Homo sapiens: one gene and its partner. The protein of the gene in region 1 purifies or fractionates together with the protein of each later gene. This does not show direct contact. Each region holds a gene or a part of one and is shown on either strand. Other genes may lie near its edges.

Region 1 (3,813 bases):
CGAGAACTTGTCTTATAAGAAAAGAAAAAGAGGCTGGGCACGGTGGCTCATGCCTGTAATCCTGGCACTTTGGGAGGCTGAGGCGGGTGGATCACAAGGTCAAGAGATCGAGCCAACCAACATGGTGAAACCCCATCTCTACTAAAAATACAAAAATTAGCTGGGCGTAGTGGTGCACACCTGTAGACCCAGCTACTACTCGGGAGGCTGAGGCAGGAGAATCGCTTGAACCCGGGAGGCGGAGGTGCAGTGAGCCGAGATAGCGTCACTGCACTCCAGCCTGGGTGACAGAGTGAGACTCCGTCTCATTAAAAAAAAAAAAAAAAGTTAGAAGACTGAGAAAAGAAAAATAATGAAATAATTTAGAGCAGTCTGAGCTATGTGAGGTATGCAAAATTTATCAGGACAAGTGAGGCAGGAGTATAGGTCTTCAGTTAAGACCCCATGTTTAAAAGCATTTTGTTCCTGACTGGCTGCCTCATCTATTACCTACATATTCCCGAGATTTGTAATACAAAGAACAATGTATAGCCAGTCAAAAGCTTATGCTATTTTAATGTAAATTCTTGGCAAACAACTTTAAAACTGCTTTAAAACTGCTTTTTTTCCTCTAAACAACCACTTGTAACTGCTTGCTAATGAGGGCAACTTGAAACTCTGCACTTGGGTTGCAGTTCTCAAACGTGGCCCAAACAACCTCAGCCTCAACTTCTTCCTTTTAGGTCCTCTTTTCTTCAATACAAAATGAGATAATAGGGGTTGGAAGGAAAACCTTCAAGACCTATGGAAGTCAGTTGCAGCCAGCTCATCACATAGAGGTGCAGGTGAGGTGTATTTTCATCACGGTGGAAAATTCTGGCTGCTTCATCTCCATCTCTAGAGCCAATATTGGAGCTTTTCAATAAAAGCTATGGCCTCAACCACCAGCACCAAGAAGATGATGGAGGAAGCCACCTGCTCCATCTGCCTGAGCCTGATGACGAACCCAGTAAGCATCAACTGTGGACACAGCTACTGCCACTTGTGTATAACAGACTTCTTTAAAAACCCAAGCCAAAAGCAACTGAGGCAGGAGACATTCTGCTGTCCCCAGTGTCGGGCTCCATTTCATATGGATAGCCTCCGACCCAACAAGCAGCTGGGAAGCCTCATTGAAGCCCTCAAAGAGACGGATCAAGAAATGTCATGTGAGGAACACGGAGAGCAGTTCCACCTGTTCTGCGAAGACGAGGGGCAGCTCATCTGCTGGCGCTGTGAGCGGGCACCACAGCACAAAGGGCACACCACAGCTCTTGTTGAAGACGTATGCCAGGGCTACAAGGTGAGTGTGTGGGCCCGGGAGCTTTGGTAAGTACCAAGTCTTATCCTGCTCCCCAGGAGCTGAGATGATTTAACTTGAAACCTAACATTATGACTTGGAAATACAGCTTTCATCATGTCATTCTTCTGAAAAATAGTTTATGATGATTTCTTGCTCAATTATCTAGACTGTCCATCCTGACCTTCAATGGGATGGTTGGACTCTTATCTCTATCCATTTGTGTTATGATGAATTTCTTTTTGCTTTAGAACAGGTTGTTCTCAAACCAAACACCCGCATTTTTTCTTGTTTCACACCATGAATATCATTTGAAAAACCACAATATGTAAAGCCATGCAGTAGGGCCTGAAAACAGGGAAGAAAGACCCATCACCTTTTAGGTATCTACAGTCTAGTAAAGAAAACAAACCATCAAAAATGTCTGCCTGGAGGTCCCTGGTTTTGGTGGTGGGGAGGGACATTTAGGGTAGAGAGTGGTTCATCTTAGAAGTAACTCCTGAAGGACACGTAAAAATTGAACACCTATTGGGGGATTTTCATTTGGGGAATGAAGGGTCAGTGACATTGAAAATATCACTCTGGTACCTCTACTTTTTTTTTTTTTTTTTTTTTTTTTTCCTGAGGTAGGGTCTTGCTCTGTATCCCAGGTTGGAGTACAATGGTGCAATCTCGGCTCACTGCAGCCTCAACCTTCTGGGGCTCAAGCAATCCTCCCACCTCAGCCTCCCAAGTAGCTAGGACTACAGGGATGCCCCACCATACCTGGATAATTTTTTTATTTTTTGTAGAGACATGGTCTGCCTTTCTTGCTTATACTGGCCTCAAACCCCTGGTCTCCCTCCCATCTCAGCCTCCCAAAATGCTGGGATTAGAGGCATGAACCACTGTGCCCAGCTACTGTGGCATGTCTATGATAAAAGGAATATCAAGGAGTAAAATTCAAACTATCCGTATAAGAAAGGGAGGAGAGGGCAGATTTTAAGCACGATTCAGGAAGAAGAGTCAAAGATTTGGAAATGCTTGGTTGTGGAAGGTGAAGCAGAGGGAGAGGTTTTGTGTACCATCCAGATTTCTTGCCAGAAAGCATATTAAGGAAGGTGGGACTTTGCTGTTGGCAGCATGGAGGAATGGGCATAGTCCTGATGTCCTTTTTCCTTCTCTGTCCTGCCTAAATTTGAGGAAAATGTTGTCTCCAGTGTCAGGCTCCTTATTCTGTCCTCCATGAGGCAGAGGTGGTCTTGTATGAAGGCTCTAAGTCCTTCTAAGGACATGTCAATCATGACCACCACTCAGCTCATGGCAGCTCTTCCTTAAACTCCATGGAGCAGCTAATAACTGCGATGATCATATTCCCATTTGAATTACTTTTCCACCAAGTAGTAAGAAAAGGAACCAGCTTATGTTGAAATTGAGTTTTGTCACTTACTAGATGGGCAATTTTGGGCACGTTACTTAATGTCTTCACACCTTGGTTTCTCCATCTGTAAATGGGGATAATAGCAGTGTCCTCCCTCCCTAAAACACATACACAGGAGGTGGTTATAAGCTTTGAGGACATTAAAATATAGAATGCATAGAATAGCACTTGGCATATAGTAAGGACAATGTCATCTTTTGCTAAAACAGTTACATAGAACCTTTTCCTGAGAACACTCGAGAATGAATGAGTATACTTGTTGGGTTTACAGAGGACAGGAGACAATTCTTTCAGCATTGACTACAATTAGCAATTTGGGTCAGCTTCAAATCACTTTCAATAGAAATATGAGAAACTGTTTTGAAGAATAAGCTAAAAGCTTGACATGAATACTAAATCATTTTAAATTGGATTCATGATACCATTGTTCAAAAGATACCAGAATTCCCCTCTTCCATGAACTGTTTCTAATAACCAGCTGGCATCCTGATTTTTCCTGACTCATAAGACACAAAATTTCATGTGTGCCAAACACTGGTATTGGTTTTGCTTGGTTCAGCATGTTGTTTTACAAAATCTTTTAGATGATGATTACCTTGTTCTATATCCAACTTTTTCCTGGCAGGACTCTAGTGGTGGACATAGCTCAGGCTCTGGGTCAGCAGATGAGATTGCAATTGTTGCTCCACCACCTGGCAGTCATAGCCCTTTGGGCAAGTTATTTTACCCCTTTCTTAGTCTCATTTTCTACAGCACAGAAATGAAGTTTAAAATCCTACCAACTATTCAGGGTTGCCAAGGGGATCAGTATGTTCCTGCACATATAGCCTTTAGCATGCTCTCTAGCAAAAAACAATGAGGACTCTATAAATATTCACTATTATTCAAATATATCTTAGAAGATTGGGATTCCCCCTAGGTCCCTAATGAAGAGTCAAATTGAATAGGCTTCACTTATCAAATTTTTCCTTCAGGAAAAGCTCCAGAAAGCTGTGACAAAACTGAAGCAACTTGAAGACAGATGTACGGAGCAGAAGCTGTCCACAGCAATGCGAATAACTAAATGGAAAGTAAG
Region 2 (3,813 bases), on another chromosome or scaffold:
CCAACCCCCTCCGTCTGTGCCGTAGGGACCCAGCTGGTGGAGGTCTGCTTCCCACCAGGGTATAAGCCTCCCTGGGGCCTCGCCTGGTGTCTGCACACAGCGGGTGCTCAATAAATATTTGTTGAAAGAGGGAAGGCAGGACTGAAGCTACGGCCTGCTCCTCTCACCCAAGCCCCAGCCCAGCCCAGCCCCTAACTCACCAGGGATGTGGTTGCCGTCATACTTGATCCCCATCTGGTGCAGGCCTTTCTCAGTGGGTGCATACCTCACCGTGATGGTGCCGTCCTTGTTGTCGGTGATGTTGGGCCGTGCCGTCTTCCCCGAGGGCATCCGCACCTCTCCTGCAGGGCAGACACAGTTACGTGGAGACCCTGGTTTCCCCCACTGCAACCTCCCTGCTGTCCCAGGCCTGGTCCTGAGTGCTTCTGCTGCCACCCGAGAAGCCAGGCATCAAGAGACAGCCTGTGGCAGTGGCCTGAGCCCTGAACTGGGGACAGATGGCTTGCACCTGAGTTCTGGCTCTGCCCAACTTGCTGTGTGACCCTGGGTAGAGCTCACTTCCTCTCTCTGGGCCTTTGTTTTCATCATTAAGACACAGGACTGGGCCTGGAAGAGGGTTTCTCCCCTCAGCCCTCATGCCTGGGAGCCACAGGGCAGTACCTGTGAGCTCCCCTTTCTGCACCGCGAAGGGGATGACCAGGTTGAAGGGCCTCAGCATGGACTCCATTGGCTCCACAGGCACCACTGGCTCCTCTGTGGCCTGCAGCAGGTGAGAGGGAACAGTCAGTGACTGGGGAAGGCCCAGGAGTTTGACCCATGCTATGACTGAAGCTGGAGAGTGAGGAAAGAACAAGGTAGTTAATCATGAAACCAGCGTGGCAGGAGAGGTGCGTCAGCTGCAAGAGAAGGAGTGCTGTGCCCAAGTGGGGTTCCATCTGCCCAGCCTAACTCTTGCCTGCTCCCCAAGAGGCCCCCAGACCATGTCCCCGCCCTGGCTGCAGAGGAGTAGAGAGAAGAAATGAAGGAAGGGGAGGAGGAGGAGGACATCGCCTGGTGGGAGGCGCAGTACCCAGTGTGTGGGGCGGGCGCCGGGCCGGGGAGGAGCGTAGGGCTGGCGCAGCTGTGGCACTTCAGAGGGCTCCTCCTCGTGCGGCAGGGGGTCACACGCCTGGGGAGGCAAGGCACGGGGGCACAGGGTGTGGCAGCCTCACAGGCCTAGGGGCTGACTCAGAGAATGGCCCAGGAACCTGAAATGCTGGGTGATAATTTGGGTGTTCATCCTCCTGCAGGGCAGCCTCTGGGGAGATGGAGCTGGGGATGGTGGAGAGCACAGCGGGTTCCTCCAGAGACAGCTGACAGCACTGGGCAGGGGGCAGGGCCATGCTCTCCTCCCACTTCGGGGGTGCTGTGGGGAAAGTTAAGGCTCCATCCTGGAGCACTCTGGCCCCAGGAGCCCTCAGAGAAGTGGGATTCCTTGGGGACAGTTATCTGGGATCCCTGCTGCTGCTAAAAGGGCCAGGCCCCCCTCCCCAGCCATCTAGTCTTGCTGTGGCTACAGAACTTACCAGCACGTGGAAGGGGCTGTTGGGGATGTGCTCACCCCCGAAGCGGATGGTGATGACGTACTTGCCCGGCTCGGGCGCTGTGTAGTAGATGTCAAAGGTACCGTCATGGTTCTCAACCACATCCACATCGAGCTCTGCCCCATCCGGCGTGGACACCGTGCATGTCACCTTCCCCTCACCGGCTGCCTTGGCATCCACCGTGATCACCGTCTCCTGCCCAATCTGGATTCGAGGGCCCAGGCAGGCACCTGCCATGCGGGAGATCCTGCTCAGGGAGCTGGTGGGCTGGAGCCAGCCCTCTCTGTTCCCGCTGCCCGCCCCCTACCGCCAACCACCCTGGCCCACACCAAGAAGAGGAGAGAAAGGGCACTCACCCAGGCCATGGCCTCCAATGGACACTGGAAAGAGAGAAGAGTGTGAGGCCAGGCGGTGCTCAACGTGGGCTGGGGCATTGGGCGGGGGTGAGGGAGGGAGGGGCCAGGGCTAGGGCATGTGTGCTCTCCGACCAGCAGACCCCTGGGGACCAGGCCAGGGTTCTGGAGGGGCTTTGAGGGGCTGGGTGGTGAGCAGGGCACGGGCAGCGGGTGGGCACCCACCTGTGACGAGGCACTTGCTGGCATCCCCAGTGGGCAGAGCATGGATGCGGAAGGGCGAGTAGGGGATCTCATCACCGCCATACTTGATGGTGATGGTGTACCGGCCACTCATGTCCGGCAGGTAGGACACAGTGTACGTGCCATCCCCATTGTCCCGGATGTTGGCCTTCTTGGGCTTACCCTCGGGGTCCTGAGGGAGAAGCAGAGGTCAAGGCCCGCCTGTGCCTGGAGCATGACCTGCGGGGTGGGATGCACAGAGACTCACCAAGATCTGGACAGTGAGCAACCCCTCGCCCGCGTCCCGTGCGTCGATGGTGAACTCCACAGGCAGGCTGGCAGGGATGCCAGAGGCGTTGAGGCCTGGGCCGCTGGCCCGCACCTTGCTGGCATCATGAGCTGGGAGGACCTTGATCTTGAAGGGGCTTGAGGAGCAGAAGGGATAAACAGTTGGCTGGGTGGCATGGACGGGGCGGTGGGGGGTGATCTCATCTTGAGCCAGAGTCCTCCCCATAGACATGGGCAGGAGGGAGGACTGTGGGGCAGGGAGGAGGGACCAGTTCCCAGAAGCCGATGACATTCCATGTCTGGGGGTGGGGGCACTCTGGGACTCCCTCGACAGAGCCAGGGTACGTCTCCATTCCCCAGGAAGGTGCTGTGGGAGGGTCCAGGAGGAGGCCCTGGCCCAGGCCTCCTGCACTCTTCCTAAGGCGCTAGGTTTGCCGTAAAAGCTCCTGGGGCAGGAAAGCCTCACAGCAGAGAGCCCCGGGGAAGAGCGGGATGGGGTGGCGAGACTGGACGAGGCTGAGAGCTGGGAGAGGCTCTCCCAGGGGACTCCAGCAGTGATCCTGAGTGCCACCCCAGCAGGAGCACCCCAGAGCTCAGCCGCAGCACAGGAGCCCAGGGCTGGTCCTCACCTGCGTGGCACCTCCTGGTCAGCATACTTGACGGCTACCGTGTAGGGCCCGTCAGTGGCTGGGGTGTAGTGGACAGTGTGGGTGCCATCTCCATTGTCCCGCACCTCCACAGGCTCGGCCACACCTGGGCAAGGGGCACAGGGTCAGCAGAGCCTCCGGGCGTCCCGCCCCACCTCCCTCCTCCCTGCCCCGGCCATTCTATACCTGTGGGGCCCAGCACAGCCACCTGCAGGGGCGCCCGGCCAGCTTGACTGCAATCCACTGTGAAGGTCTGAGGAACCCGGGCCCTGACACCAGCCCCCAGCCCTGGCCCTGAGCACTTCACCTTCCCAGGGTCCACCACATCCTTCACTGGCACGCGGAACGGGCTCCCTGTGAGGAGAAGGACATTAGACCCTGCCCACCAGCCCTGATGGGTCCCCCTGATGCTGAGGAGCCTCGGAGGAGGAGGCCTTCCCTGCCTTTGAAATGCCCACAGGGAAGCCAGACCAACATGGGAAAATGGCTAGGAACTTGCTAAGAAAACACACACAAGAATAAATGAACTTGACTGCAGACTGAGGCTGGGCAAACCTCACTCATGTGGGTCCCAGGCCTGGAAGAGAAGGCCTTCCTAAATTAATAAAATGTGAAAATAAAATGTTTTCAAAAATGAAATGTATTTCTGACACTGTGGCTGAAATAATAAAAAGATGGGAAATTAGATAAGGGAAAAAATTTCCAATTTCAGCAGTCCCA

Evidence for each region.
Region 2: the proteins of TRIM38 (region 1) and FLNC purify together in Homo sapiens (affinity purification with mass spectrometry, with the first as the bait; one large-scale study listed by BioGRID). This does not show direct contact.

The regions. Positions count from the first base shown.
Region 1 is NC_000006.12:25,965,613-25,969,425, forward strand, and holds part of TRIM38 (E3 ubiquitin-protein ligase TRIM38), read left to right. Parts: intron 1-722; 5' UTR 723-910; coding exon 911-1,321; intron 1,322-3,712; coding exon 3,713-3,808; intron 3,809-3,813. UniProt on the Homo sapiens protein: E3 ubiquitin-protein and E3 SUMO-protein ligase that acts as a regulator of innate immunity. Acts as a negative regulator of type I interferon IFN-beta production by catalyzing 'Lys-48'-linked polyubiquitination of AZI2/NAP1, leading to its degradation.
Region 2 is NC_000007.14:128,847,331-128,851,143, reverse strand, and holds part of FLNC (filamin-C), read right to left. Parts: intron 3,448-3,813; coding exon 3,280-3,447; intron 3,200-3,279; coding exon 3,076-3,199; intron 2,584-3,075; coding exon 2,427-2,583; intron 2,352-2,426; coding exon 2,162-2,351; intron 1,964-2,161; coding exon 1,940-1,963; intron 1,814-1,939; coding exon 1,566-1,813; intron 1,169-1,565; coding exon 1,070-1,168; intron 983-1,069; exon of another isoform or gene 761-982; coding exon 661-760; intron 342-660; coding exon 201-341; intron 1-200.